4 linked regions of the Homo sapiens genome follow. The protein of the gene in region 1 interacts with the protein of each later gene in a pairwise test. Each region holds a gene or a part of one and is shown in the gene's direction. Other genes may lie near its edges.

What was found.
Region 2: the proteins of FAM168A (region 1) and NFYC interact in binary tests that used the Homo sapiens proteins (3 or more experiments, as listed by UniProt).
Region 3: the proteins of FAM168A (region 1) and RNF216 interact in binary tests that used the Homo sapiens proteins (3 or more experiments, as listed by UniProt).
Region 4: the proteins of FAM168A (region 1) and EPN2 interact in binary tests that used the Homo sapiens proteins (3 or more experiments, as listed by UniProt).

Annotation. Positions count from the first base shown.
Region 1 is NC_000011.10:73,405,650-73,413,591, reverse strand, and holds part of FAM168A (protein FAM168A), read left to right. Parts: intron 1-2,055; coding exon 2,056-2,198; intron 2,199-3,930; coding exon 3,931-4,105; intron 4,106-5,948; coding exon 5,949-6,061; 3' UTR 6,062-6,079; intron 6,080-6,847; 3' UTR 6,848-7,942.
Region 2 is NC_000001.11:40,694,386-40,702,327, forward strand, and holds part of NFYC (nuclear transcription factor Y subunit gamma), read left to right. Parts: intron 1-1,220; exon of another isoform or gene 1,221-1,360; intron 1,361-7,942. UniProt on the Homo sapiens protein: Component of the sequence-specific heterotrimeric transcription factor (NF-Y) which specifically recognizes a 5'-CCAAT-3' box motif found in the promoters of its target genes.
Region 3 is NC_000007.14:5,771,341-5,779,282, reverse strand, and holds part of RNF216 (E3 ubiquitin-protein ligase RNF216), read left to right. Parts: intron 1-619; exon of another isoform or gene 620-1,796; intron 1,797-7,942.
Region 4 is NC_000017.11:19,232,429-19,240,984, forward strand, and holds the start of EPN2 (epsin-2), read left to right. Parts: upstream 1-4,937; 5' UTR 4,938-5,103; intron 5,104-8,556. UniProt on the Homo sapiens protein: Plays a role in the formation of clathrin-coated invaginations and endocytosis.

The DNA of each region.
Region 1 (7,942 bases):
AAACCCCTTTATTTTATAGATAAGTAAATTGTGTCTCCGTACACATCAGATGGTTCCTTCTAGACATCTGCAAAGCTAGTCTCCCTGTCTTCCCCCACAGTATCTGCTTCTCCTCCTATGACCACATTTCATCATTAGCTCCATAATCTAGAAACTTTGAGAAATCTGCTCTAGACTTCTCACTCAGCTCATAGTTGCACTTCCAGTTAGTTTCTACTTCTCTTTAACATGCTTCCCTCTCTTTCATATGTACTTTCCATTCTATCCTCATTGTTACTTATTTCCCAAGCATATTTGATCACAAAACTATGGAAAAAACTATGGATCTGCAGGTGAAAAAATAAATGACGTGAATCCAGGAACAGGCTGACTTTTGTGGCAGCTGTGCAGCAGCTCTCCTATCCTCCTGAGTCATCAGGGGCAGGGGGGTGCTAAGCCAAAGAGGTGTGATGTGGACTGAGAAAGATTTGTGACCATGTGGTAGTTTGCTTTTACTTGGGGTTAAGGTAGAAGAGACCCAGGATCTTTAGAACCATGGAATTTTTGTTTAGGAAGAGATCTTCATTCTTAGCCACCTGATTTTACAAAATAAGAAACTAAGGCCCAAAGACTTGACAATTGTCATGAAAAATTAGGGGGAAAGCCAGGACTGAAGACTAGATGTCTTCTCTTCCAATAAAGCACTCCCTCCACTCTGCCCCTAGTCCCTTATTATATGATAGAAACAGCACCTCGGAGCTGAAAGGGTCCTTGGTGAGCATCTTATAGGTGAAAGAGCTGAAGCCCAGAGAGGTTCAGTGAGGTCTGCTAGACTTACCCAAGATGGAACCACAGGAAAGAAGCCACCTCAGCACCTCCCCAGCAGGGCTTCAAAGCCTAGGTCCTCAGGCACTGTCCCTTCAACTTAGAAGAGTTTAGAGTCTTTAGGAGAAGTTATTAAAAAGACTTGCCTTTTCTGAGCCCAGGATCCCCTTGTGTAAAGTCCAAGGATTGGAGTCCCTTGATGATCACTTGGGTTCCGTAGAACGATTCCATTTTGTGATTCTAAAAGGAGACAGTGTTGTTCCTGAATGACTCATGTTTCAAGTTTTTTTCTGTGAACAAAGGATCTGTCACTCTTTTCCGGAGGATTAAAAGGCAGCACAGTTTATTTACATGGGCAATTGTGAGCTTCTTGGGGCCTGACTTCTCAGCCCCATTCTTAGCTCCAGCTTTTGTCCATCCTGCTGAGGGACAGACATGGCCCAGGTTCCAGGTTGATGTGAATCTTTGTGATCCCTGACTTCAGGTATTTTCAGGCAGAGGTGGCCTTCCCCTAGAGCCCAGGAGAGAAGGAGGAGCCAACTCTGCAGAGCAAAGTTTTTCAGCATCCTAGAAGATGACGATCTCTGAATGGTGTTTTGTATGGTCAGCATCCCAGAAGATGAGGGTCTCCGAATGGTGTTTTGTATGGTCAGCATCCCAGAAGATGAGGGTCTCCGAATGGTGTTTTGTATGGGGTTTTCACCTTCAAACTTGGTGGGGAGGGGAGGGAACATGATGGAGGGAAGTCCAAGAAGAGAGTGAGAGAGAGAGAGATAAGGAGAAAAAGAAATAGAGCAAAAGAGAGAAAGACAGAAACAGCAGCAAAAAGATACCCTGGATTCTGTGTGAGAAGACAGAAAAGCAAGTAGAGTAGCAATAAAGAGCAAGTGAGTTGAGGGTTTCCATCTCTGTGCACCTGCCCATTTCACACAGACAGCTCCAAATCCCAGGCTGTCAGAGCTAAAAGGGACCATGTGGTTCTAGCCTCTTATTTTATAGATGAGAGCCCTGAGACCCAGAGAAAGAAAAGATGCCCAGAATCATCCATGCAGCCCTGTGCACCAGGACTGAGGGAGCTGCCTCTGGGGCCAGGGCTTTCTGGGTGGAGCCCTGTTCTCTGTTTGTTCTCATCTCTGTTTCCAGCCTGGATTCAGCCCATCTTTGTCTGGGGAGTCGTGACTGGGACCTGCTGCCTTCTAGCAATGCTTTTCTGCCAACTAACTGGAAGTCTCTCTTATTGCCTTGGTACAGGATATACTGCGGGGACACCATACAAGGTCCCACCGACCCAGAGTAACACTGCTCCACCCCCCTACTCCCCATCACCCAACCCCTATCAGACGGCCATGTATCCAATCAGAAGTGCCTACCCCCAGCAGAATCTGTATGCCCAGGTAGGTACATGTCAAAGCCACCTCTTCTGCAGGTAGAGGAGCCTTCAGCCTGGGTGCAGTGTGGTGGGGTAGGGTGAGGAAGTGAGGGAAGGAGAGGATGGTTTGTGGCTCTGGCTAGCCGTCCTTGTTGTATCACTGAAGCAATATCCCTGCAGTCTGCTTACTCCCTCACTCCACCTCAGCCCCTAGAGGGGGTAGGCATGAAGTCATTTAGATTAACAGAGCCCAGAATGTCAGAGGACAAAGGCCCTCAGAGATTTTCTAGCTCAACTCCTTTGTTAAACAAGTGAGGAAACTGAGACCCAAAGAGGGGAATGACTTGTCCAAGGTTACACCACGAGCTATTGGTTGGTCAAGGTGAGACCCCAACGTCTTAGTCTTTTCTCCCTAACCCCCACATCTACCCTTCCTCAGTCTGTGAGCTGAGTGGGGAGGAGGAAAGTACACAGGCCCTGCCACCAGTATCCTCTGTGACCTTGGACAAGTTACCCTCTCTTTCTGTGCCTGATGGGCCTTTCTGGGCTCCTTCAGCTAGAAGATGTATGCATTCCAGGATTGGTATGAGAGAGGGGACCATATGGGGCTCTAGCACACCCATGACACATTCTTCTGGAGTGACTCTATAGGAAACATAAGTGGTGAGGAGAATACTTTTTTAGTTTAAAAAACAGCTATATTTTAGAGTAGAAGACAAAACTTAAATTGATCTCAAGCCTCTTGTTTTATTTTTTTTAATCTCATTTAGTAGAAACATTTGAAGATTTCTGAATTAAGATGATCTCAGGGGCTCCTGTTTACTTCCCCTACAAGTCAGTGGGCCAGTGGATTGTGGCAGCAGGAAGCAGCCATGTGATTCAGGCATTGGGAGTCACCTTGGACCACTGTCTTCTTCATCCTTACCTTTTTACCTAAAGGGAAATAGCTAGTTAAGAGACATCCTGGAAAATGCTATCCATGTATGCCTTTTTTTTTTTTTCTTTTTTCTTGAGACGGAGTCTTGCTCTGTCACCCAGGCTGGAGTGCAGTGGCGTGATCTCAGCTCACTGCAACCTCCGCCTCCCGGGTTCAAGCCATTCTCCTGCCTCAGCCTCCCAGGTAGCTGGGACCACAGGCATGTGCCACCATGCCTGGCTCATTGTTTTGTATTTTTAGTAGAGATGGGGTTTCACCATGCTGGTCGGGCTGGTCTCGAACTCCTGACCTCAAGTGATCTGCCTGCCTTGGCCTCCAAAGTGCTGGAACTACAGACGTGAGCCACTGTGTCCAGCCGCCATTTTTTTTCAACATGTACTTTTTTTTTTTACAACATGCACTTACACCATTATGATACTACTACTAATTATCCTTTTGTGTATGTGTTCTGGAGTTTACCAGCCCTGTTCACATGCTTGGTAACTGATTGATTGTTATTCCTAACTTTAAATTTTAGGCAGCTTATAAAAGTTCATTGCAGTAAGATAAAACATTTTAAAATGCTAAAACCAAGGTTAAGGGAGTAGAGCTCTTATCCCATTAGATCATCATAGCAGCCTTATGAGCAAGGCAGGACAGGATTAGAGCCTTATTTTTCAGACCAGAAGCTGAGCCCAGCACTGCACTGACCACAGTCACATAGTAAGACAAGCAGAGCCCCAGCTGGGGTCCGGACCTTGTGTCCTTCAGCCAGTGCTGCTCTCTCCATATCCCACCTACCTCTCCAAATGCCTATGTGACCTCAGCCTCTTTCCCCCAGGGAGCCTACTACACACAGCCGGTGTATGCTGCCCAGCCTCATGTCATCCACCATACCACGGTCGTCCAGCCCAACAGCATTCCCTCTGCTATCTACCCAGCACCTGTTGCCGCCCCGAGGACCAACGGTGTGGCCATGGGCATGGTGGCAGGCACCACCATGGCAATGTCAGCAGGTGAGGGCAGCATCTGCATCAGTGTCCATCCCTTTCCTCTAGGAACTCAAAACGGAGCAGAGAACACAGTCATAGAATTGGCTGCAGCACAGCACAAGAGATCCTGTGCCAGGGGGCTTGGGAACCCAGAGGAAGGAGCCTCTAAATCTGTCTATGGGGATGAGGAAGATTTCACCAAGAAGGACGTATCGAGCTAGGCCTTAAAGGGTGAACACAGGCTAACTAGAGAAGTGAAAGAGGGAAGGGTGGTGCAGAAAGAACATGAACATGGCATGTTCACAGAATGGAGGAATGGAGCCAAGGCCCTTCGGAAATAGGGGCTTGGAGTTGGAAGGTGGCTGGATCGCTAGCAAGGATAAGATGGTGGAAAGTCCTGAATACCTTGTGGTACCTCTGTTGCACACAATGGGGGTCAAGCAGGGCAGGGATGTGGTTAGGTTTAAACATTCTCTGGCTGCAGAGTGGAGACAGGATTAGAAGGGGTGATCTGGAAGCAAGTAGGTCAGTGAGGAGGCTGTCAGTGTACTTTAGGGGAGAGAGATGATGCTAGCACTCCAGTAACAGCAGGGGCGCCAAAAAAGAAGACACAGGGGCAATGTTCTTTATTAGGCAGGAGCTTAAGGACCTGTGCAATAATTATAATAATTATGAGGGATGACAAAAGCAGAAGTCCCCAAGGACTGTTAGGTTTTTTTTTTTTTTTTTTGAGACAGGGTCTTGCTTTGTCACCCAGGCTGGAGTGCAGTGGCACGATCTTGGCCTACTGCAGTCTTGATCTGCTTGGGCTCAAGTGATCTTCCCACCTCAGCCTCCCAAGTAGCTGGGACCACAGGCATGCGCCACTACACCCAGCTAATTTTTGTGTTTTTTTGTGGAGGCAGGGTTTCACCATGTTGCACAGGCTGGTCTTGAACTCTTGGGCTCAAGGGATCCACCCACCTCAGACTCCCAAATACTGGGGTAACAGATATAAGCCATTATGCCTAGCCTAGAGACCCAACTTTTAAAGAACCAGCTAGGATACCATCTGAGGTAAGAAAGTACAAGGGGTAGAGTGAGCATTTGGATTTTATTCTGTCCCTAACGTAAGGGTATGGTTGAGGCCTCTTACTCCTCAGATCAAGTTGGCAAACTGTTGGATATCTACTCAGTGCCAGCCTTGTTCAGGTCCTGGGAACCCAATATCAATAGATCAGATCAGAACACTGTCCTTAAGGAACACCCAGGTTAGTGTGGGAAACACAGCCACAGACATCACAATTACTACTCAGTATGATTGTGCAATAAGAGAAGCATACAAAGAAAAGTAAAAGGAAGGCCGGGCGTGGTGCCTCATGCCTGTAATCCCAGCATTTTGGGAGGCCGAGGTGGGCGGATCACTTGAGGTCAGGAGTTCGAGACCAGCCTGGCCAACATGGTGAAACCCCATCTCTAGTAAAAATAAAAAATCAGCCGAGTGTGGTGATGGGCACCTGTAATCCCAGCTGCCCAGGAGGCTGACGCGGGAGAATCGCTTGAACTCAGGAGGCAGAGGCTGCAGTGAGCTGAGATCGCGCCATTGCACTCCAGCCTGGGCGACAGAGCGAGACTCCGTCTCAAAGAAAAAAGGAAAAGGAGGACTTAGAATAGTCATTGATTCTGTCCTCAAGCATCAGAAAAAATTCCCCTAAGGAGGTGAAGCCTGGTGAGGTGGAGAAGGGCAGAAAACAGGTCATCAGGAAGGCGAGGGAGATGGGGGATTTGGGCAGAGGGAGCAGCCATGTGAAAGACTGTAGCTTCATCCTCTTCATTCCTGTGTCTGGTGCAGCCTCGTCAGGTTACTCTTCTCTCTCTGGATGCTCAGGTACCCTGCTGACTACACCCCAGCACACGGCGATTGGGGCACACCCTGTCTCCATGCCAACATATAGGGCCCAAGGAACCCCTGCGTACAGCTACGTGCCCCCACACTGGTAAAGCCTGCAGCCCATCCAAGTGAGTGTGGCCAGGGTGAGAGAAGTGGGAGGGGGATACATACAGGAACTGCCTCAAAGTCCCTGGTTTGGGTCTGGAGCACAGGTGTCAGCTAGGGCAGGTAACAGCTGTCAAGTTACCAGTTGCTTTCCTGCTCCAAGGTCCATAATATCACTCTTAATAATAGCTATCACTTCTGTTGACTGCTTGTTGAAATCTAAATAATAACAGAAATAATAATAGCTATCCCTTTGCTTATGTTATCTCATAATCCTTATAGTTGCTCTGTGAAATAAGGATCATTAGCTCTATTTTACAGATAAATATGTAGTTAAATATCACTTAGCCAGTAAAAATTAAGCTAGGGCTTAAACTTCAGTTCTCTAGTACTAAATTCTGTGCCATTTACCTTATGGTCTTCGGACTTCTTTTAACTATGGGCCCCATTCTTCAAATGAACTCTTGCCCAGATCATATGTTAAGAGCTTTGGTTGGAGCTATTTGGAGGCTTTGGGCTGACCCAGACCTCTGGCTTCCTTGGTCCCCTCAGCAGCTCCTGAGGCAGTGACAGTGAACCATAGGGCTCCAGGGATGTCACTTTGAAATCCTCTGGCCCCCCACATCATCTGGCCTCCCCCATCTCCTCCAGGGCTCTTGGCACCAGAGCACAACAACTTCCACAGGCGGGAGGCAGGCAGCTTCACTAGGAAGGCACAGCGGGCTCCCGAGTTGAGGGGAGAAGCCTCCTGAATATCACTGACACTGTTTCTTTCCCCTTTCCCTCTGCAGATCTGGAGTCACACATTGTATGCAACTACTCAAGTCTTACACCGGTGCTGGAGCAGTTCCCTAGCAGCACCACCTCTATTTGCAAGAAGAGACAACGGAAGTGCAAGGGTCACTTTATGCATCTTTAATGGTTTTGATTTTTATTTTTGGTTTTTGTAAAAGCTGCTTTTTCTAATCTCCTGCCTCTCCCCAACTGTCCCCCTCTTAGCCCCTGCCCTTCCAGCTCTATCCCCTTCCTCCTACCTGACCAGGCCATGTCCTCTCTGCTCTTCCCTAAGTGTCCTGTCCCTGGGGATCCCAGTCTAGAGGCAAGCAGAGAGTAGGGTTTATTGCAGTGGTTCATCTGAAGGCTGGATTCCATTTGAAGAGCATAAACAGATGTGGTCCAGGGTAGGAACTCAGAGCTGTTGAGCAGGCTACATCTCTAGGGGAGTGTTCTGGTTGTTTTTTCTTAAGCAAGATTAGTTCAGGACATTCCCATGTCCCAGACACAAATGAAATGTCTCCTGAGAACCATTGCAACAGACCAAGAACAAAACCACCTGAGTATGTAGGCGTGTTATTAGCAGCTTAATACCCCAGGCTGAGAACCTGGGGAAAAAAGTCTTTAGAATTTGGGGGAGGGTGGGGGGAGGGAGGGCATTGTGGGGAAGGAGAGGGAAGAAGGGAGGAGCGGTGCTTGCCTCATGGCTTTGGTTTGAAAGGTCTCTGGCCAAAGCATCTGGCCCTGGACCTTCTGATTTGCACAGTGATGTTAACTGACCTGGCACTTCCTCAAAAGGTGATTTTGTCCTTAGACCTGCCAAGCGGCTGCAGGGTGGTAGGATCCCAGCATCCCGAGGCCTTGGAAGGCCGGATGCCCTGTGTCATCCAGACTTCAGCCTCTGAGCTGTCATGGACCCACTCTGATGAGGAGCTTCCTCCTGATTGGAGTGGGAACCTAGGGCATTTCTCTCCCTTTTCTTTTGCCCTTCCCAGTGCCAGGACTCACCTGTCTGACCATAGAGCTTGCAGGCAGGCCAAGCTCTTGGTTACCTGTGCCATTCATGGCCCAAGTGAAGGAACCACATTCCAGGTGGGTGCTGGCAGCTCTGA
Region 2 (7,942 bases), on another chromosome or scaffold:
TGGAAATCTTAATTGCTTTATGTCTTGATGTGCTTAGGTGAAGCCCTCCCTCATTTTTGTTTACAATAACGTTTCACTGTGGAAGATAGAGGCAAAGCTACAAGTGAAAATAGGGTTTGCCATGTATTTTGTACATTGGTCATTTCAGCCTCATTTGGCTCAGTCATCAAGTTAACCAAATATGAAGAATGCTGTAGATCTATAACTTAGTTTCGTTTTTAGTAAGACTAGACAAGGTGATAAAAATGAGTGTATATGTACACCTTTTTTTTTTCAGCAGGCATTTCTGGAGCAACCTGCCCTTCAACATTGGTGACCACCTTCATTCCATGTTAGCCCCTTATACCCATGGCCACCTTGTTAAGATCTGGAATTGACCACTCTAGAAATCTTGAACTCTCAGGAAATCTCAGTAGATCTGAGTTTATGTTGAAAACTTGTGAACCTCAGCTTTTTCTTCAGGCAGAAATCATACTAAGATTTATACTTTATAGGCTGTGTTCATGGCATCTTATTTAATTCTTATGACAAATCTGTTATCTCATTTATACTTACACATTTTTTTCTTTGGTCAGAACTACTAGAGACTGGGCGCAGTGGCTCACGCCTCTAATCCCAGCGTTTTGGGAGGCTGAGGCAGGTGGTATTTGAAGTCAGGAGTTTGAGACCAGCCTCGCACACATGATGAAACAAAATTACAAAAATTAGCCTGGCATGGTGGTGGGCGCCTGTAATCCCAGCTACTCGGAAGACTGAGGCAGGAGAATTGCTGGAACCCGGGAGGTAGAGGTTGCAGTGAGCTGAGATTGTGTCACTGCCCTCCAGTCTGGGCAACACAGCGAGACTCAGTCTCCCAAAAAATAAATAAAAATCCCAAAACTGTACTAGAGAAGATTTTACAAGGCATTTTTATCCCCTTTTATTTTCAGAGAAATGAAGGCAAAGCGAAATGAGGATTCATACCACAGAATTGTAAACATATATGGGCTAAACCCATTCTGTGCTATGGAGCTATGCTGGGAGTCTTGTTTTGGGTTTTGTTTTGTTTTGTTTTTTGAGAGTTTTACTCTGTCACTCAGGCTGGAGTTGCAGTGGTGTGATCTTGGCTTACTGCAACCTCTGTCTCCCGGGTTCAAGCGATTCTCCTGCCTCAGCCTCCCGAGTAGCTGGGATTACAGGTGTGCACCACAACACCCAGCTAATTTTTGTATTTTTAGTAGACACGGGCTTCCACCATGTTAGCCAGGCTGGTCTTCAACTCCTGACCTCAGGTGATCCACCCACCTCGGCCTCCCAAAGTGCTGGGATTATAGGCGTGAGCCACCGTGCCCAGCCAGGCTATGCTGGGTGTCTTTTTGAGGTAATTTTGAAATTTATATCTTTTAGTTCAAAAGTACTGAGCCACTAGGATCTGTGAATCAAACACAGGGATAATATAGTTACTACTTTTATTGAGTGCTTGCTTACATTGTACCAGCTGGGATATAAATGTATTATGTATATTTATTCTCATACACTATGAGGTAGATAATATAGCCACCCTCATTTTTACGTGTGAGGAAACTGAAAAGTAATTTGCTTAAGTTCTCACAGCCAGTAAGTAGCAGAGCCCAGATTCAGACACGGATTTGTAATTCTGTTTTTTTTTTTTTTTTGAGATAGAGTCTCGCACTGTTTCCCCAGACTGGAGTGCAATGGCGCGATCTTGGCTCACTGCAACCTCTGCCTCCCAGGTTCAAGCGATTCTCTTGCCTCAGCCTCCTGAGTAGCTGGGATTATAGACGCCCGCCACCATGCCTGGCTAATTTTTTGTATTTTTAGTAGAGACGGGGTTTCACTGTGTTGGCCAGGCTGGTCTCAAACTCCTGACCTCGTGATCCGCCCTCTTCGGCCTCCTGAAGTGGTGGGATTACAGGTGTTAGCCACAGTGCTCAGCCACAGATTTGTAATTCTTAATTCTTATGTAAATGAAGCCCTTACTCTTAAACACTGTGTTGACACCATAGAATGTTATGGGAAAAGAAAAAAAGTCCTGGCTTCTTAGCTCAGGAAGCGAACTTCAGTTCTTTCAGGCGTGTCCTTTGTACTGAGGCTCCAAAAGAGTGAGATGACCTTGACAGGGTCACTTGGCTATGCAAGGGCAGAGCCAAATCTTGCCCAGATCACTGGATTTCCAGATAGGTGCTCATTCCACTGGATAGCATTGCCTCTCCTGTGGACGCATTGACTTGATGGCAGAGATGACTTTAAGTGACAGGTTTACTTCATTCACCGGAATGAGAATGGCAGAGGACATTACTAGGGTCACAAATGACCTTCTTAAGGTCAATCCTGGCCTCAGGCATACAACCAGGAAGAATATTCCTTTGCCAGTAAGTTGTTCTTTTCCATTCTGTTTCTTGTTCTCAGAGGAAACTGGTTGTGAGTTATCTGATGTCTTACAGTCTTTCTTTTCATTTTGTTTATTCAGTTTTTCATGCATGCACTGTCACAGTTTAGGAAGGCTACAAGGTCATTTTAGTGTTTTCCTGCAGAGACTCAAAGCACTCAATATAATGTAAGTAGATTAATTGCAGGAGGAAATGGATTTTTAAAACTTTGGCCAAAAAGTGCCTATGGGAGAGGACAGTATTAGTTGCTGATTGGAGTCAGACCAAGGGAAGAGTTCTGTCTCTGCAGTGCATTTACCCTCTGTGCTGGAGCAGGTTCTTAACTTGTTTCTTCTTCTGTAAAATAACGACAATAATACCTACCTGTAGGGTAATTATGAGAAATGAATATAATAGCGTGTGGTAGATGCCTATCACTTAGTGGACCTTAATAAGTGGGAGAACACATTTTCATTTTGGAACAGCATGAAATCTGTCCTTTCAGCCCGTTACAGCTTCCTTGATGAGGAGGGGTGAGGCCTTTTGTAATTGTCTGCTCTGCAATATACAGTAAGATTTCCAAATGGGAGAGCAACCACTTGACATGAAGTAACCTAATTTAGTTGTGCTGTTGTGGTTTAGGAGCTGATTTTCAGTGGACCAGTGTGAGGTCAGTCTTACTTTTGAATGCACAAAGTAGTAGGATCATTTGTTTCAGGGAAAGATTGTTTCCTGATCTCTTTTGTTCATCCCCAAGTGTTGAGTGGTAATGATTGCGATGCGATGAAAACTTCTTCATATTTGACAAATAGCAATGATGATTAAATTCGGAACAACTGGTGTTTTCATTCTGACCAGAAGGAGAGATTTCCATTATAGTCATTTAAAATTTTTCTAACTGTACAAATTATCAGTTGAAGTAGGACCGTTGGTTTGGTTTGTGTGATTTGTAGTCACTTGAGTAACGTTTTCTTTGAAGTAAGCAGTTAGACAGTATTGTGGAATGGTTCAGGAAAAATCTCTCTGCCTGCAGAAAATTTTGCTAGGTTGCAGGAATTGTTGCACCCTTCCCACACTTCTCCATGTGTTAGCAGTGATGTACCTGATAGCAGTGAGACAGCACCTGTACTCATTTTCAGTATTGGAGTTGTATTTTCCATTTTGTTATTTTCAGATCTCCAGATAGATTACTTCTACATCCAGTACTTCATGAGAGCTTTCTATTGTATAAACTTGTAGTTTAAAGAGTGGAACTAGAGTCTAATCTTTGCATTTGAATGTTTCCAGTAGAATACGTTTAAAATAAAGGTTGAAATATCCATGTCTGGTCAGGCACAGTGGCTCACGCCTGTAATCCCAGCACTTTGGGAGGACGAGGCTGGCAGATCACCTGAAGTCAAGAGTTTGTGACCAGCCTGGCCAATATGGTGAAACTCCGTTTCTACTAAAAATACAAAAATTAGCCAGGCATGGTGGCAGGCACCTGTAGTCCCAGCTACTCAGGAGGCTGAGGCAGGAGAATCGCTCGAACCCAGAGGCGGAGGCTGCAGTGAGCTGAGATCATGCCCCTGCACTCCAGCCTGGGTGACAGAACGGGATTCCCTCTTTGAAAAAAAAAAAAAAATTCACGTTCAAGGTACTATATATAAGGTGTCCTATTTAAATGAATGCCATTCATTCATTTATTTATTTGCTGGAGTCTTGCTCTGTCGCCCAGGCTGGAGTGCAGTGACATGACCTCGGCTCACTGCAACCTCTGCCTTTTGGGTTCAGACGATTCTCCTGCCTCAGCCTCCTGAGTAGCTTGGGACTACAGGTGCGTGCCACCACACCTGGCTAATTTTTGTATATTTTGTAGAGACAGGGTCTCATCTTGTTGGCCAGGCTGGTCACGAACTGCTGACCTCAGGTGATCTGCCTGCCTCAGCCTCCACTGCGCCCAGCCTGAATACCCTTCATTTAAAGCCAATAGTATATCCTTTGCCTCCCGGGTTCAAGTGTTAAAGTCAATTGTATATTCTTAATAAGATTCAATAATTGTCCTATTCTTAAATACATTCATGAGTATGAACCATAAATAGTGATCTTGAGCAGTGTTTCAAAGTGTTTTAATAAGAGGAATGAGATGGGCCGGGCGCCGTGGCTCACACCTGTAATCCCAGCACTTTGGGAGGCTGAGGCGGGCAGATCATGAGGTCAGGAGTTTAAGACCAGCCTGGCCAACATGGTGAAATCCCATCTCTACTAAAGATACAAAAAATTAGCTGGGCGTGGTGGTGGGCCTCTGTAACCCCAGCTACTCGGGAGGCTGAGGCAGGAGAATCGCTTGAATCCGGGAGGCAGAGGTTGCAGTGAGCCGAGATCGCGCCTCTATTGCACTCCAGCCTTGACGACAGGGTGAGACTGTCTCCAAAAAAAAACAAAACAAAACCAAAAAAGGAATGAGATGACTCATAGGAAATGATGTTAGAGTATAGAATATTTTGTATCATGTCATTGGCTTAAATCTGAAGTACTGAAGGTTTTCACAATCCCAAATTACTGTTGCCCTTGGCCTCCAGAGCTGTAAACTGTCCAGTAATCTCTATGAAGTTGAGATTCTTTGCCCAGTGTTAAGAAGATATATCCCTTTGACACTGGCATGATCTGTTCCTTTTAAAAGAGAAGAGAGAAGGGGCTAATAAAGTACACATTATCTGCACAGTTGACATCCTTGTCATTTTAAACTGTTTTAAAAATTATTACTGTACCCTGAAAGTAAGTAGCATAGAATTTGCTCATTATGAAATGACGAAGTTGGGGCCTTTTAAGAAGCCAAGAATGCTTGGTTGGCAATCACTTAGGAGGCAAAGGATTGCTATTTATGGTGGTATTTAATGTCATTTTCAGTAGTACTAAGTTAGAAAGGAAAACGCCATAATGTGTGTAAAACTCTAACCATTTTGGAAGGTTATCAGAATACAGTTGCCTATAGTCTTTTCACTCCACTAAAATTTGTAAGTTGGTTTAGAGTAGCATTTCCCAAGCTCTTCCACTGAACATTAGTTCTGTGTAGTGCTAATCAGTGTCCTTTGGGGATAAAAAGAGGATCCTTGACAAAAAATGGCCAAAGTGAAATGCCTTTCTTTACTGCAGAATTATTATTCAGAGCCTTGGTGCTTATTTGCCTATGACCCTTCAAGAGGGAAGATACATTACGCGGTGTTACTCAGACTTACTTGGTCATGGACCGCTGTTTGTGAGAACACCTAATAAACGTTTCATGCTATGACTGGTGTGTAGTGGAGCCCAGTTGAGCAGTTCTGGTGTAGTCTATGAATAAAAAAATGAATCATTTTGTATAAGATAGCTTGGTAATCGTGGGAAAGGACTTTTCTGAGAACAAGATACATCTTCAAGGTAACGTAGACTCTTAAGGATGAATGTGATTTCAAAGGTCATCTAATCCAATGCCCAATAACAATAATAATAGTAGCAGGTACCATTTTTTGAGTACATGCTTTTTATCAAGCACAGTGTTGTTATTCTACATGCCTTATTAACCACTGGGTCTTAGTGATTTTTGAATCTTCTTTATTTTTTATTTTACTTTAATTAATTTTTTTGAGATGGGGTCTCACTTTCTTGCCCACGCTGGAGTGAGGTGGTGTGATCATAGCTCAATGCAACCTCAAACTTCTGGGTTCAAGTCATCCTCTTGCCTCAGCTTCCTGAGTAGCTGGGACTACAGGGATGTAGTACCATGCCTGCCCAGCTAATTTTTTTATTGTTAGTAGTGAGGAGGTCTTGCTATGTTGTCCAGGCTAGTCCCAAATTCTTCAGTTCAAGTGATCCTCCCACCTTGGCCTCCCAGAGTGTTGGGATTACAGGTGTAAGCTACCGTACCTGGCTTATTTTTTATTTTTTGAGATGGAGTCTCACTCTATGAGGTTCAAGGCTGGTCTTGAATTCAAAAAAATTTGTTTTATTTTTTAATTTTTAATAAACTAATAAATGGACGTTAAGGAGATGACAAATTCTGAATTATTTGCTTTGTTGTCCAGGCTGGTCTTGAACTCAGTGTCTTCACTACTGCATCCAGTCACCAGATAACTTTAGCATCCTGTTTTCCACGTTAGTGGTCTAGAGTGCTGCCATCCTCCCACTGTGTCCCCTTCTCCAGCTTATTCTCCACACTGTACCCAATGGTAAGGAACTAAACAGTCTTAAACATGGGGCTGGGAAAATCAGAATTACACTTTAAACGTGGGACTGATTGTGCCAGTCCAATGTTTAAGACGCATTAGTTCCTTATCATTGTCCTTAGAATAAAGTTTTAGTATATTAGCTTTGTCCAACCCTGTATACCTTTCTTTTTTTTGAGAGAGAGTCTCGCCCTGTCACCCAGGCTGGAGTGCATTGGTGCAATCTTGGCTCACTGCAACCTCTGCCTCCTGGGTACAAGGGATTCTCCTGCCTCCAAGGGATTCTCCTGCCTCAGCCTCCTGAGTAGCTGGGATTACAGGTGCCTGCCACCATGCCTGGCTAATTTTTGTATTTTAGTAGAGATGGGGTTTCACCACGTTGGCCAGGCTGGTCTCAAACTCCTGACTTCAGTTGGCCTCCCAAAGTGCTGGGATTAAAGGCATGAGCCACTGCGCCCGGCCTACCTTTCTAACTCTACTTCTAGCTTCTTGCTTCTGGGCTGCTGCTATACCAAACAGGAATGTAATACTTTCTGTCAGCTTCAGGCCTTTGCACATGCAGTTCACTTTGTCTATCTTGGTTTTTATTCTTAGGATTTTAATTCTCCTAAGAAGCTTTCTCTGACCAGCCTAAAACTTACGTAAGCCCTGGGTTAGGTGCTATGCTTATGTCCTCCCATAGCATTTTGCATTTGCATGTGTTGTAACTCTTAATGTACAGCATCATGATTGCCTATTTTAACTTTCCTGTTTGTTACAGTAGACTTTAATCTCTTTAAGGACAGGAACTGTGTCTTGTTTAGAATCCCCAGAGCTTATTTAGTACAATGGCTATGCTTATAATTTAAGTATTTATTGAACAAATGAAATTTTCCTAAGCCCTAAAACCTTGCAAGATGTTTTAGTGCAGGAAACTGGCCTCGATGGAGTTGAATAACTAGCACGAGGTCACTCACCTAAAAAGTGGTGAGGAGGGATTAAAATCTAAATCTGTTTAGCTGTAAAGATTGGGCTTTTTTTCTTGCTGCTGCACATGACTGCTCTCTCTCATGTTGCCTTTACACATCCCTGTCAAGTGTTCAAACAGCCCGTGCCTAACAACCCCATCCATAGCTTCTGAGGAAAGTTGTGTCATCTTTGGACAGCTCTGAGAGCTGAAGCGAGTCTTTGCAGAATAATTTCCCATCTATTGGTCTTAATTTATGCTTTGGAGAATATAACTTATTTTCAAAAAACAAATAATTCAGAATTTGTCATCTCCTTAAGGTCCATTTATTAGTTTATTTCATTCCTTCATTCACTGATAACCATTTACTGAGCACCAGTGCAATGTTCCTTTATTCTAATGACGTGGTCATTGCTCAGAATGTTTCTGGGCCTTTTTTGGGG
Region 3 (7,942 bases), on another chromosome or scaffold:
ACTCCTGAAGCCCCTGTGGAGAAATCTGATAAAGAAGGGTTAGGTGTGAGTGAGGCAGATCGAAAGTTGATGAATAGGATAGTTGAGAGAGCTGGTATTTGCTGATTCTACTACCAGCTACTATTTAATGTGTTTACAAAATTCTAGGCATTGCTATATTCTAGCTCTTTAGAGACATAATTCATTCTCATACCTGATATCATTATATTTGCATTATTGTTAAAGATAATAGAACATAGTTGGGAATGGTGTGGCTCACGCCCGTAATCCCAGCACTTTGGGAGGCCGAGGCGGGCAGATCACCTAAGGTCAGGAGTTCGAGACCAGCCTGGCCAACATGGTGAAACCCCGTCTCTACTAAAAATACAAAAATTAGCCAGGTGTGATGGCGTGCGCCTGTAATCCCAGCTACTGGGGAGGCTGAGGCAGGAGAATCACATGAACTCGGGAGGCGGAGGTTGCAGTGATCCGAGATTGTGCCACTGCACTCCAGCCTGGGTGACAGAGCGAGACTCCGTCTCAAAAATAATAATAATTTTAAAAAAAGAAACTGAGGTGCTGAAAAATATCTAGTCCCAAAACTTGTAAGGGTCAGCGTGGAACTTGAACTCAGTTTGGACCCAGAGTTCATGCCACTAATTATCCTTCTATAATTAGTGAGTGCTATTTATTCTGAAAGTACATCTACTATTGAAGATCATCTACTGTGCCATCCGATATGCTATGTCCTGGGGCTTTGGGATCAAGTGACACTTTGGTTCTGCCTTCTTGGAACTTAAGTTTTAGCAGAGGAGACCAAAATTACACATAGTTTCCTAAATAAGTATATTAAAGTATTGTTGGAAGTACTTTGAAGAAATGAGGTACGTTGTGTGATTGAACCAGGGAGGAACATCTAGGGGATAATCAGGAACAATTTTTCTCTGAGGAGAAAGCAAAGAACCGAACAATGAATAGAGTTAATTTGGTCCAAGAGGCAGTGAAGAAGAGTAGTTTAGCTGGGGAAGAGCCTGCAGTGGAAGGAAGGAGCAAGTCATGGAACTGAACCATTGTTACTACTGAATGGTGAATGCGGGGGGAAAAGGTATGAGGTAAGGCCCGCTATGTCAGCAAGGTCAGGTGATGGTAGCGTTTTGTAGGCCATGGTAAGGATTTCGGTTTCACCATGGTGAGATTTGTGGTTTAAAAGAAATAACTCAAATGCCGTATGAAAACATGTCAAGGGATGGAGCCTGCAAGGCAGTACTTGGGCTAGAAGCAGAAGCATGTCCTTTGGTCACAGAAGATTCAGTTCTAAAAAGATCGTTGAAAACGTTGATTTTACCCTCCACACATGAGGATGTACTTACTTATCTGTCCTAGTTTCTAAACTAATTTTCATTGGACAGTTGAAGAAAATCTTGATGTTTTATGTTAAATTGTTTAGCCCGCCCACTGAAGATTTTGAGTTTAATTTTTGATTTAAAACCTTTCCTATTGTAAAAATACACAGATAATAGGATTCTTAGAGCTGTTAAACTCTAGACTAATTGTTTGCATATTTATATCCATAATGATGGATGTTATTTTACCATATTTTGTCCACATATTAAAGTTAACACAATTTTCGTTTTCTTTCTCTGAACTCATCATCTGCTTTGTTCTTCCTTAATAGCATCACCATCCTGTGGTCACCTGATCTCAGCGTCTAGGTCAACTTTGATTCCTTTCTTCTTGCCCTGATGGCCAGTGACATACACAGATCCCATCGACTCTAACTCTGCAGTCAGTGTCTTGTATTCTTCTCCTCCCCCTAGGTACTGTTGGCTCTTGTTTCCTGGCACCGGTTGTCTCCTACATGCCATCTTACACATTGCAGCCAGGTTGATTTTTCTAAAGCACAGCTGTCATTGCATTGCTTCCCATTGGCTAGAAAATAAAATCTGAGCTCTGTTTCAGTTATCTGTTGATGTATAACAAACCACCCTAATACTTACTGCTTCATAGAATAATTTTGTTTGTTGACAGTTTTATGAATCAGGAGAATTGAGAAGTGCTCACCTGGGCCATTTTTCTCTGGTCGACATGTTGTCAGCAGAGGTGGCCAGTGCTGGAGCATCCGCTTCCACAATGTCTTCTTCGTTCACATGCCTTGTCAAAGACTGCTGGAAGGCCGGGCTCCACTGGCTCTTTCCCTCCACGTGTAGTGTCAGGTCTTTCTGTGTGATCTCTCAGCAGGGTATTCAGACTTTTTACCTGATGACTCTGGGCCCAGGAGCCCTAAGTGAAAGCTGTTGTGCTCACTCGCTCTTTCTCTTCCTTTCTTTCACTTTCTTTTTCTTTCTTTCTTTCTTTTTTTCTCTCTCTCTCTCTTTTTCTCTCTCTCTTTTTTTTTTTTTTTTTTGGACAGAGTCTCCCTCTGTCGCACAGGCTGGAGTGCAGTGGCACAATATCAGCTCACTGCAACCTCCTCCTCCCAGGTTCAAGCCATTCTTGTGCCTCAGCCTCCAGAGTAACAGGGATTACAGGCATGAGCCACCACACCCAGCTAATTTTTGTATTTTTTTAGTAGAGTCAGGGGCTGCTGTGCTTTTAAAGGATAAACCCAGATCTGACACGTCTCTCACTTTAGCTTGATATGGCTATTCCTGTGAAACCTTCACTGACTACCTGCCCTTCCCCTATAGTCTTTTTTTTTTTTTTTTTTTTGAGACGGAGTCTTGCTCTGTCGCCCAGGCTAGAGTGCAGTGGCCCGATCTTAGCTCACTGCAAGCTCCGCCTCCCGGGTTCTCGCCATTCTCCTGCCTCAGCCTCCTGAGTAGCTAGGACTACAGGCGCCCGCCACCACGCCTGGCTAATTTTTTTGTGCTTTTTTTTTTTTTTAAGTAGAGACGGGGTTTCACCGTGTTAGCCAGGATGGTCTCCGTCTCCTGACCTCGTGATCCGCCCGCCTTGGCCTCCCAAAGTGCTGGGATTACAGGCTTGAGCCACCGTGCCCGGCTATAGTCTCTTTATTACACTAGTGACTTTATTCTCTGATTGATGGGACTCTGAGTTCTTTGAGACAAAATCCATTTGAGAGTTTGTTTTGATGTATTCCCGATGATGCATAACCAATTCTTGTTACATAAAATGCTGTAGCAGTACAGTCAGCTCTCCATATCCACAGCTTTCACATATGGATATGGAGAGCTAACAGTAAACTTTTTCTGTATTGATTTAATATTAATTGTATTAGTACAGACTTACAAAAGGATGGATATCCAAAGAATGGTTAGGATGAGCAACTGGTATTTGAATGAAAAACAATCGTTTATAGACATTTTTAAAAACATGCTGGGAAGAGGTATTGTGGAGGCCTGGTGTGACACGGGCATGTCATCTTCTTCCAGCCTGTGCCTAGCTCTGCTTTGCCCACTTTTTCTTTTTTTTTTTGAGATGGAATCTCGCTCTGTCACCCAGGCAGGAGTGCAGTGGCGCATTCTAGGCTCACTGCAAGCTTTGCATCCCGGGTTCAAGCATTTCTCCTGCCTCAGCCTCCCGAGTAGCTGGGACTACAGGTGCCTGCAACCACGCCTGGCTAGTTTTTGTATTTTTAGTAGAGACAGGTTTTACCGTGTTGGCCAGGCTGGTCTTGAACTCCTGACCTCAAATAATCCACTCACCTCGGCCTCTCAAAGTTTTGGGATTACAGGTGTGAGCCACTGCACCTGGCCTGCTTTGCCCACTTTTTGCTGGGAAGTCAAAGGGATTAACTCATTAAATTTGAAAGTCTTTAGTGACCCCCAAATCTGTTGCAGAAGTGGCAGGCATATTTACAGGAAGTATTCTGGAGAGCCAGGGGCACTACAGAGCCCTAGGATCATACAGTAGTAGTTTAGGAGCATATACATAAGGAAAAATGGAGAAGCAGCATGAATAGAACAAGGAGAAAAAAATGATTTGTAGAAGACAGCCTCAAGCATTCTGGTCACGAGGAAGTGAAGGTGAGATTTTGAAAACCAGAAAATTGGGTGAGAGAACCGTGAGCGATTCTCTTTTCTTCCTGACTTCCTTTGTTTCCCATATTTTCTGTAATGGGCAATACTTGATAACTGAAGAAAATCCTAATTGTTGTTGCCTAGGCCATGTTTCCTGACTCTGGTTCTATGGCCATGGTGAATAACAGCTCCAGTCTTTGACAGAGGAAGAAGTTTTTGGAGCCACTCGTTCAACAACTGTGCTAGGCATTGGAAATACAACTATAAGTAAGAAAAGAGGCCAGGCACAGTGACTTACGACTGTAATCTCACCACTTTGGTGAGTGTCGGGGGGGTGGATCACCTGAGGTCGGCATTTCAAGACCAACCTAAGATGGCGAAACCTCATCTCTACTAAAAATATAAAATTAGCTGGGCATGGTGGCAACATGCCTGTAACTTGGGAGGCTGAGACAGGAGAATCACTTGAACTCTGGAGGGGATGTTGCAGTGAACTGAGATTGCACCATTGCACTCCAGCCTGGGCAACAAGAGCAAAACTTCGTCTCAATAAAAAAAAAAAAAGTAACTTGGAATGGGAAAATAAAGATTTTTTCCCCCCTTGAACTGTATTTTATTAATAAGCACTGCATTTCCTGTGTACTTGTGATTACAATGCAGCTATTTTGATGGTATTTACCATATACAAAGTGGCTTCTCATTTTTCAACATAGCCTTGTAATGTAAGAATAGCTATTTTGATTTTTCTGTTTCGCAGGTAACAGTTAATAAAAATAGCACAATGTCACACTTAGTATATATCAGGCACTGTGCTAAAACTTCATGTAATTCAACTGATTTAGTTTTTAAAAAGTTTTTATTTTTTAAAATTAATGAATTTTTTTGGAGGTAGGTTCTCCCTCTGCCGCCTATGCTGGAGTGCAATGGTGCTATCATAGCTTACTTGCAGCATTGAACTCCTGGGCTCAAAGGATTCTCTTGCTTCAGCAACCACAGTAAAGCTGGGACTTGGGCACATGCCACTCTACCTACCCGCAACTAATTTTAAAACAACTGTATTCTCATTTTACAAATGAGGAAATTGGCCTAGGAGATTGAACAATTTATCTGGAGCCACCGATTGACTAAATGGGAAACCAAGATTTAAACATAGGCAGTATTATCCGAAGCCCAGATTAAAAGACTTGAGTGTCAGAGAGTTAAATGACCTGATACAGAGACTTACATTTAGTTAAGAGTAGAAATTCCATCATCAGAATTCTTTTCTTCTCACAGGTTGGGGCCACTGGTGTGCCACTCATGAGGAATTTTTTGAACCGTTACTAGCAGTCTGCTTAACTACAAGCCTGACATTTCAACTAAATTAGCTGTAAAAATGACTCACATCTCCCTTTGATTTTCAGTGTAAAATTGAAGGAAGCCAGTTGTGGTCAAAGAAAAAATAAGAAATTTGGCTTGGGGCCAGGCACGGTGACTCGCCTGTTATCCCAGGACTTTGGGAGGCTGAGGCAGGCAGATCACTGAAGTCAGGAGTTCAAGATCAGCCTGGCCAACATGACAAAACCACTTCTCTACTAAAAATACAAAAATTAACCAGCATGGTGGCACGCATGTGTCGTCCCAGCTACTCAGGGAGGCTGAGGCAGGAGAATCGCTTGAACCTGGGAGACGGAGGTTGCAGTGAGCTGAGATCGTGCCACTGCACTCCAGCCTGGGTGACAAAGCAAGATTCCGTCTCAAAATTTGGCTTGAAAATAGTGTTCAAAATACTTTTTAAAAATCTGGCTGGGTGTGGTGGCTCACTCCTGTAATCTCAGCACTTTGGGAGACCAAGGCGGGGAAATCACGAGGTCAGGAGTTTGAAACCAGCCTGGCCAACATGGTGAAACATTGTCTCTACTAAAAATACAAAAAACTAGCTTGTTTGGTGGCGGGCACCCTTAATCCCAGCTATTCTGGAGGTTGAGGCAGAAGAATCGCTTGAACCCAGGAGGTGGAGGTTGCAGTGAGCTGAGATTGCACCACTGCACTCCAGCCCAGGTGACAGTGGGAGACTCTGTCTCAAAAAAAAAAAAAATCTTATTTGGGGAAAAAAAAGGACTTGATTAGATGCAGTTCAAATTTGATACCAGAGCTGTTCTTTTAAATACCATGCTACTTATTAATAACATCAATATCATTATTTCAAATGAGAGACCCAAACTTACGCTGATATATGTCAGTTTTAAAAGTGGGAATACCTGGGGCCAGGCATGGTGGCTCATGCCTGTAATCCCACCACTGTGGGAGGCTGAGGCGTGTGGATCACCAGAGGTCAGTAGTTCGAGACTAGCCTGGCCAACATGGTGAAACCCTGTGTCTACTAAAAAATACAAAAATTAGCCAGACATGGTGGCGCATGCCTGTAATCCCAGCTACTCGGGAGGGTGAGGCAGGAGAATTGCTTGAACCCGGGATGCAGAGGGTTGCAGTGAGCCGAGATCGTGCCATTGCACTCTAGCCTGGATGACAAGAGCGAAACTCTGTCTCAAAAAAAAAAAAAAAAAAAGGAATATCTTTTTTCAGTTATCAATGCTAGAAATTTCTGTTGTAAAACTTTGCTAACCTGGTTTTGATATCTGTATATTTTGATAGTATCTATAACTTCACATTCTATAAGTTGAGAAAATGCTGATATTATTTGACTATTAACTCTTTGTAGACATTTAATGAGAAGCCCCGATCTGGGGCTTACTGCCTCTGAGGCACAGTGGTTTCTCCCAGGAAGGCAAAGAAAATTGAGATTTTCTCAGAGAGGAAGGAAAGGATTGAATCGCTTAAACCTGGGAGATGGAAGTTGCAGTAAGCCGAGATCGCACCACTGCACTCCAGCCTGGGTGACACAGCAAGAAGCACATTTAAATCTTGTGTTTATAGTAATTTGGTGTTTGTGGAGATTCTTTCTTGTCTAGTTTTTTTGTAACTGTTGTCCATGGAATTTTTTCTGTTACTATGTAAGAATTTGAGGAGATTCAAAGACTATTCTGCTGTTACTACTACTGTCTTCCCAGAATTTCCTTGTGGTTTTATTTTATTTTACTTTATTTTATTGGGACGGAGTTTCACTCTTGTTGCCCAGGCTGGAGTGCAATGGCTTGATCTCGGCTCACCGCAACCTCCACCTCCCGGGTTCAAACGATTCTCCTGCCTCAGCGTCCTGAGTAGCTGGGATTACAGGCATGGGCCACCATGCCCAGCTAATTTTGTATTTTTAGTAGAGACAGGGTTTCTCCATGTTGGTCAGGCTGGTCTCGAACTCCTGAGCTCAGGTGATCCACCCGCCTCGGCCTTCCAAAGTGCTGGGATTACAGGCGTGAGCCACCACGCCCGGCCCCTTGTGGTTTTAGTTTACATTTCTCTGATGTCTCATAATGTTGGACACTTTTTCATTTATTTATTGGCCTTTTGCGTTTCCTCGGGGTACTCAGCCGTTGTTAATTCAAATTGTTTGCCCCATTTTTCCTTTGGGCAGATGTTTTTTGGTGGGGGGACAGGGTTTCACTCCCATTGCCCAGGCTGGAATGCAGTGGCGGGATCACAGCCTACTGCAACCTCCACCTCTCGAGCTCAAGAGATCTTCCCACCTCAGCCTCCTGAGTAGCTGGGACTAGGTGCCCGCTACTGCGCCTGGCTAAATTTTTTTGCTTTTTTTGTAGAAATGGGTTTTGCCATGTTGTCCAGGCTGGTCTCAGACTCCTGAGCTCAAGTGATCTGCCTGCCTTGGCCTTCCAAAGTGCAGGGATTACAGGCATGAGCCACTGCACCCCGCCGGGATTCTTTTTCTTTTCAGTTAACATGCAAGAGTTTTTATATTTTCTCCTGGTGGCTTGCCTTTTCATTCTGAATTTCTTTGGTGAGTAGACATGCTTAATTTTAATGTATAGTGTTTCAGTTTTTTCTTTTATGGATAGTACTGTTTATGTCCTGTTTAGGGTATCTTTTGC
Region 4 (8,556 bases), on another chromosome or scaffold:
AGGCTCAGAGCTGGAAGGGAGAAGGAGTCGCTCCCTTCAGCCTATTCAGATTCTTCCCAAGAGTTTAGTTTTAGGCATGGTGGCTCATCCCTGTAATCTCAGCACTTTGAGTGGGTGGCTGAGGCAGGGGGATCAACTCCAGGAGTTTGAGACCAGCCTGGGCAACATTATGTGATCCTGTCTCTACAAAAAAATTGGAAAAAATAGCCAGGTGTGGTGTAGTCCCAGCTACTTGGGAGGCTGAGGTAGGAGGATTGTTTGAGCCTAGGAGATTGAGGATGCAGTGAACCATGATTGTGCCACTGCACTCTAGCCTGGGTGACAGAACAAGACCCGGTCTCTCTCTCACACACATACACACACACACACACACACAAAAGGCTGGGCATGGTGGCTCACTCCTGTAATCCCAGCACTTTGGGAGGCCAAGGTGGACAGATCACCTGAGTTCAGGTGTTCAGGACCAGCCTGGCCAACATGGTGAAACCCCGTCTCTAAAAAAATAGAAGGGCCGGGTGCAGTGGCTCATGCCTGTAATCCCATCACTTTGGGAGGCCAAGGCAGGCGGATCATCTGAGGTCAGGAGTTGGAGACCAGGCTGACCAACATGGTGAAACCACGTGTCTACTAAAAAAATACCAAAATTAGCTGGGCATGGTGGCACATGCCTGTAATCCCATCACTTTGGGAGGCCAAGGCAGGCGGATCATTTGAGGTCAGGAGTTCGAGACCAGGCTGACCAACATGGTGAAACGGCGTGTCTACTAAAAAAATACCAAAATTAGCTGGGCATGGTGGCACATGCCTGTAATCCCAGCTACTCAGGAGAATCGCTTGAACCAGGGAGGCGGAGGGTGCAATGAGCCGAGATTGCGCCACTGGACTCTAGCCTGGGCAACAGAGTGAGACTCCATCTTAAATAAATAAATAAATAAATAAATTTAGAAATACAAAAATTAGCCAGGTGTGGTGGCACATGTCTGTAATTCCAGCTACTTGGGAGGCTAAGGTAGGAAAATTGCTTGAACCTGGGAGGCGGAGGTTGCGGTGAACTCCGCGCCACTGCACTCCAGCCTGGGCAACAAGAACGAAACTTCGTCTCAAAAAACAAAGAAAAAAAGTTTAGCTTTGGAGTTTAGGCTTGGGTTTTCCAGGGTTACCACTTTTTAGCTGTGTTATCTTGGGCAAATAATGGAAGCTTTCTGAACCTCAGCTGTAAAATAAGGATAACGGTAGTCTCTACCTCTTAGGGTTTTTTATGAAGAGGAAATGAGGTACTGCATGCAAAACATTTGCACAATGCTCACTACTTTGTTGTCATTGTTACTAGTTCCTTTCTCCAGCACCTGCACTTCCAGGATGTTGGCACAGGTCCTTCCTTCCCCATGGGCTAGAAGGAAACTTCCTCCTGTGAGAGCTGTCATAGCTCTTTCTCTTGATTGTCTATGTGGCATTTGGTTTCTGCTCATGTTCATGCTGCCCAAACTCAAAACTTCTCTGTCCTAGACTTTCAACCCCTAGAAGGGAAAGGATGGCTCCATTCTTTTCAATGTCCTTAATAAGAGAACTGCCATCAACACCCATCCAGTGCATTTACAGTTTCCAAAGCATTTCCTCCTCTGCCTTTTCACCTGAGCCAGAATGCAATCCTAGGGAGTGGGAGGGGTTATTATTCCCACTTCACAGATGGGGAAACTGAGGTCCAGGGAGGGGCAGTGACGTCATGGTCAAGCAGCAAGTCGGTGGACAAGAAATTAGGTGTTTCTGGATTGCCAACACAAGTTTCTTTTTGTGGGACAAATAGTTTTGAATATAGAGTTCAAGCCTTTGGTGAAGATCCCGGGGAGCCTGTTCTGCACCTGTGCTAAGTGATTCTTTTCATTCAGCATGCAGTCTGTCCCTGTCTGCTGCCTGCCAGTCTTTCCCCCAAAGTCCCTTCCTGCTTGAAACCCTCCTTCCCTAACCCCAGAGACACCCCTGGCCTGCACTGCCAGCTCTTTCTTCTGAAATACACCTCTCCAACCGGCCCCCATCAGTCTGCTCCATTATCCACCTGGAACCAACCTCCAAACCTCTGCAAGGGCAGATGAGAGTGTCTCCTCCAGCCCTGTTTTCCATGGACTGCTTTGGGCACGGATGAAATTGTTCAGCTTATCCTGCAAGTTCCTCTGCAAGACTGCTTATGTGCTCTAGACTCATAGAACCTGGAATTGAATCCTAGCCCTGCCACATGCTGCCTCAGTTTCCGCATCTAAAATAGGAATAGGGCTGCTGACGTCAAGGGATCATCATGAGGATGAATTGAGAGAGGAATGCCAGGGGGCTGATACGCTTCAAGGAGGGGGTCCAGGAAAGAGAAATGACTTTGAGGAATGCAAGAATGTCCCCTCTGACCTTGCACGTGGCGGTCTTCCGGCCTCAGGACACCCTCCTCCACTTCCCAAGCCTGGGCTAATCTGGTATTCTCCAACTCACTTCCTGTCCTGTAGGTTAGCTCATCATCTCATTATCTGTATCCAGTTCTCTTTCCAGGCTTGCATATTATCTGTGCGGCTACACACACTTGCTAGGTGGGTAGTGAAGGGAGTATTAGGCTCTGCATATGGAAAAGTGGGCCTGGGTGGCCAAGCCCCAGCATATCTCCAAACCTCAATTTCTTGTCTGTAAAATGTGAACAGCAAGAATGTGCACCTTGCTGGGCACGGTGGCTCACACCTGTAATCCCAACACTTTGGGAGGCTGAGGCGGGAGGATCACGAGGTCAGGAGTTCGAGACCAGCCTGGCCAACATGGTGAAACCCTGTCTCTACTAAAAATACAAAAATTAGCCAGGTGTGGGGGTGCGGGCCTGTAATCCCAGCCACGTGGGAGGCTGAGGCAGGAGAATCACTTGAACCTGGGAGATGGAGGTTGCAGTGAGCTGAGATTGTGCCATTGCATTTCAGCCTGGGCAATAGAGTGAGACTCCGTCTCAAAACAAATAAATAAAAAAAGAATGTGCACTTGTGGAATTGTGGTAAGGTTTTAGACCAGCACTGGTCAGCATGGTAGCATCTAGCCACATATGGCTATTTACATTTAAATTAATAAAAGTTTAATGAAGTTTAAAAAATTCAGCCCCTCAGTCTCACTAGCCACATTTCAAGTGCTCGCTGGCCTCCTGTGACTCGTAGCTATCCTACGGACAGCACGCAGAAAGAACATTTCCATCGTGGAGGGAAATTCTGCTGAACAGTGCTGATTTAGAAGCATCACGCCCGTGCTGTGCATCAGCTCTGTGTTATAACTCATCTGACATTGTAAACTCAGGGCAGAAGCATGATTGCAGTGTAAAGTTCTGCTTTCCTTGGAGATGGGGTAAAGAGGTGAGGCTCACAAGGAATGTTGGACTGGTTGAGGGCATTCTCTGGGATGAGGGTGGACCAAGTTCAAAACGGGGAGCTCCGGCTTCTGCTGCAAGGCAGGCACATAGGGCATAATTCCCTCTGCTGGTGGAGAAGGGGCACCAAGCAGTGGGAAGGGTGGTTAACTGGAGAGTGTTTCTAGCATCTAGAGCTACCAGTGTTTGACTTTTCAAAGGAAAAGTGGCTATGTGGTTTTGCAAACGTGTTACAAGCTCTCTCCATTTTTATCGTATTTATTGTATCACTAGCTAGACTAATAAAGAAAAAAGAGAAGATACAAGTAAACATAATCAGAAAGGGCAAAGAGGACATTACCACCGACCCCATACAAACACAAAAAAGCCCTCAAAAACTATTATGAACACGTCTATGCACACACACTAAAAAACTTACAATAAATAGATGAATTCCTGGAAAGATACAACCTTTTTTTTTTTTGCCAGAGAATGGAATTCCAGATCCTGGGTTGTTAGAACCTTAAGGGATACTTTCATCCCCTGGTTCCTGTACAGGGAGGAGGAATCTGAGGCTCAGAGAAGTACAGTGACTTGTTTAAGGTCCCTCAGTGAGTTAGGGCAGAGGAAGACTTCTGGCCACAGCTTCCCTGAAGCCAAGGCTAGGCAGAGTGTTGATGTCACCCAGGCAACAGGGATGGTGCCCTCTGCCCACCTAGCAAGCCCTGACTCATGCTCCGCGCCCCTGCTGTGAGAAGTCTCTGCTGACTCCCACCCTGATTGGAGCAGGTTAGTCAGCTTTGAGGTGCAGCCTCCAGTTCTGGCCCCTCCAGTTCCGGGACTCTCATTCGAGGCATTTGGGGCTGTCTCATTTCTGTGCCCAGCACAGGGCTTGGCACAGAGGAGGTGCTTTGTGGGTGCCCGCCAGTCAAGGGTTTCCGTTTTCGTGCCATGTAGGTAACCCCTTGCCATTCGTGCCCTTAGGTAACCCCTTGAGCAGCCTAAAGAAGCCTAGAGACTTCTCCGTTTTTGAGTATATTTTATTGACGTGAAATACACGCACGGAAAAGCGCACAAATCCAAAGTGTACTTCCGCGCATCTTCATAAAGTGAACACACTTGTAGCCTAAGAACCCAACCCTACCAGCGCCCGGCAGGCCCTGGCCCCCTTCCAGTCTCTCCTACTGAACAAGGTTTTTGAGTGAAACCGGCAGGCCGGAGCGTGAGTTTCTGCTTGACGGGGCGGGGTCTGCGCGTGCTGCCCGGCCGTGAGTGTGGGGGGGCCGTGAGTGTGTACGGGGTGGAGTGGCCTGAAGGGGATTAGAGTGCGCGCGTTCGGGTATTAATTTGCCAGGGTTTGTGTGGCGCTCGGGATTGGGGGTTTTTTGGGGGCTCGGGCGTCGACTGTGGGGCGCTGCGGAAGGGTGGGTCGTCCGCGTGGGGTCCTGGAGCGCAGGAGGCGGAGGGGAAGCCGCGCAGGGGCCACTAGGGAGGGGCTCTGGCGGGGTCGCAGGGGCGTGGTCTGCGGGCGTGGGGGCGGGACCTCGGGGCCTCGGGGGCGGGGCCTGAGGGCGCGCGCACGCGTCCGGCGCGCCCCCTCCCGGCCGCCATGTTGGCTGGTGTGTGGGTGTCAAACTGAGCCAGACGCGGCGGTGGCGGCGGCTCCGCGGGCTACGGTCGCTCCCGCCTCTCGAGCGCTGCCGGTGGCCGCAGCGGCGCACCCACGCCGGCCCGGAGGAGCAGAGGTGAGCCACAGCCCGTGGGGCTCCAAGGCCAGAGCGAGTCCCCGGGGCGAGGACCCTCCCCCTCTCCAGGGCGCGGACGCCCCCAGAGCACAGGCTCCCCTACCTCACCAGCCCCGCCAGGGCATGCGCCCCTGCCGCCCCGCTGGTCCCTACGCCAGGCTCTGGGGGATCCCCTTCTTTCCAACCAGGCCCCGCCCCACGGACTGGAGCATGGCCCCCTTCCCATCTGGATCCAGCTTTCCGCTGCAAGGATCTCCCCCCTTACCCGTCCCTATCACCGAGCATCTCCTTTTATGTCCCCAGAGTCCAGGGCGCCCCTTACTCCTACCTCGGATCCTGGAGCCCCGTTCATCTTGGAACAACCCCGCCCCCTCCCCAGAGCACGTTCCTCCTCTCCCCGAGCCCGGCGCCCCTTCCTCCTGAGCCCAGCCTGGTCTCCCGCCAGCCCCCGTGCAGAGCCCGGTCCGGGCGCCCTCCGGGAATCGGGGGAGGGGTCCTTATCTCTGTCCGGGATCCCGCCCGTCTCACCTTTCCTGGGGGCTGTAGCAGGGCCCCCTTCCGTCCTTGGGGACCAGGCTCCCCACTCCCCAGCCCCCACTCCCACGGAACAGCGGGGACGGGGGCGGAAGAGCCAGGCTCCAGCTGCCTTTTGTTCCGCGTGGGATGGCAGAGACCCACCCGGCCCGGCGGTCCTGCTCGGCTGATCCGGGTGGGTGAATGGGTGCGTGGGGTCTGGCCTCTTCCAGGAGAGACTTCCTCTCTCTCCCTGTGGGGCGGCTCCCCTAGAGCCGAGAGCCGAGCGCGTTGGGAGGCTGGCCTTTGCTAGAGGAGTCGGTGCCAACAGGTTTTTGTTTGCGACCTGAAGTTTGCCCAGTGGCTTTCCCTGGGGCAGCTTGAGCTCCCTGTGAATCCCCCCGCCGGAGCTTGTGGAAGGCCGTTTCTCCGCCCAAGGAGTCCGTCTGGGCGACTCCTTCACAGTTGTGCTTCCCTGGGGACGTATCTAAAATCTGTGCTTTAAGAGCGGAGAGGGCTTAACCATCATTAGGGTTCAGATGAGGGAAACTGAGGCCCAGAACTGCAGTAATTTGCCCAAGGTCACGCAGTGATACTGTGTCAGTGCAGAACTAGAAGCTAGGTCTCCAGGCTCTGTTTACCACATTTAATAACTTTTTTATCTTTTAGGGAGATGTTCAGGACCCTACCTTCCCCTTTATTTTTAATATTTATGCAAGAAAGTGGGCAGGAAAATATGAGAAGTAATGAGTTATTCCTTTTCACCTCCAGAAAATATCCTGTGAAAGAAGGGATTGGAACAGGGTGTTAAAATGATGGGAAAAGGTGAATTTTAAGAATCCAAGCTTCCTCTCATTATGTAATATAACGAAGATTTGGCAGAAAACGTGCCTCTTGTAGCTCTAGATACAGAATTTTAGGTGCTGACAAAATCTTATGCTGAATCTGGCACAGCAGTGATTGAGTTAGCATTGATAATTAAGTTTTCATCTGTATTTAAATGAACATCAAAAGGGACTACAATTTGCTTCTGAATGGTACTTGTTCGGTGCTTGTTTTTGGGACAAGTGATTGTGTTGGGGAAGCGCACCTAAACTTTTAAATTTTTTATTTATTTATTTTTTTGAGACGGAGTCTCTGTCACCCAGGCTAGAGTGCAGTGGCACGATCTCGGCTCACCGAAACCTCCGCCTCCTGGGTTCAAGCGATTCTCCTGCCTCAGCCTCCGGAGTAGCTGGGATTACAGGCGCACGCCATCCACCACGCCCGGCTAATCTTTGTATTTTTAGTAGAGACGGGATTTCGCCACGTTGGCCAGGCTGGTCTCGAACTCCTGACCTCATGTGATCCGCCCACCTCGGCCTCCCAAAGTGCTGGGATTACAGGCGTGAGCCAACACTCCCGGCCTAAATCTTTTATTTATCTGTATTTTTACTTTTACATTTTAAAAGCTTATTTATTTCCCTGGTTTTAAAATTGGGCTAGTCATCTTTACCAGTCTCACTGGGCTATTCTTTTGTAAGCAGGGAATGAGATACTGGTTATTAAAGATTTTGGTAAAGTGTAAGTTACTGTAAGGCATGATTCAGGACTGCGTCCCACAAGTCCCCGGACCAGGAGCCAGTTCGGATTGTCTTGTGGGATGTACCAAGTTTCCCTGGTTTACAGAGGCTTTTTGCCTCTCTGAAGCCTGAGCTGGCCAGATGGAGAGCTCTGTGGAAAACTTCCAGCAGTGTGTGTTGGGCCAAGCACTCGAGGTGTGAAGAAATGTAAAACTTTCAAGTGATAATATCTAGCATCGTGTATGCAGCCTTGAAAAATGACCCAACCTTTGTAGAAATTCTCTGTTATCACTAACCCTCTTCCATAATGAGCGGAGGATTTCCCAAGAATTGGGATTCTGATAAGAGTCCTGCAAAAGTTGAAAAGTTTTCGGACTTTTTTTTTTTTTAACTTTAATTAGGAGGAGCGGCAACTTTCGGTTGTGAACTGAAGTACTATGAGATTTTTATGCATGGAATTGTCCTTGTCATACTTTTGGAAAGTACATTAAAATTTTCTAAGTTTTCTGGCGGTTCTCACTGTTCCCCATAACCTTTCTCTCTGGTGTATAGGGGTGTGAAGGACCACGATTGTTGTCATTTTATGACATGTATACCTGGTGACCCTGAGCCTTGGAGAAGTCAAAGGGCTTGGATTTGGGGAATTTTTTTTTTTTTGAGATGGCGTCTCACGCTGTCACCCAGGCTGGAGTGCAGTGGCGCAATCTTGGCTCACTGCAAACCTCTGCCTCCTGGGTTCAAGTGATTCTCCTGCCTAACCTCCCGAGTAGCTGGGACTACAGGCGTGTGCCACCATGCCCGGCTAATTTTTGTATTTTTAGTAGAGATAGGGTTTTGCCATGCTGGCCAGGCTGATCTCGAACTCCTGACTTCAAGTGATCCACCTATCTTGGCCTCCCAAAGTGCTGGGATTACAGGTGTGAGCCACCATGGCCGGCCTTGGATTCGGGGAAGTTGAGGCTGGAAAAGATGTGAGGAATTACGTAGTTTGTATCCCTTTTTTGTCTGCTGGACTTTTAACTCATGTATTCGGTGTAAACAGACCTCTTCTGTCAATACTTTGCCGTCTAGCTCGTCCGATGTTTGGCCCCTTTTTCTCTGCTATCCTACCTTCACCAACCCACACAGTCTGCTGGTGCACTTACGACATTGTCCGTGTATCTGGGGCTCTTGTGACACTGTGACGTCTTTGAGGCCAGTGGTCAGCTTGTCTTTACTTCTCCAGTACCAGGCTCGGTCTCTGATAGATGGTAGATGCTCAGTAAAGGTTTGTCACCAGTATTCCTCGAGGCAGGGGAGCACATTTTTATGGCTCCCTACTGTTCTGTCGCACTGTTGCTGAAATCACTACTGTTGGTTCAGCAATTGTGTGTCAGTT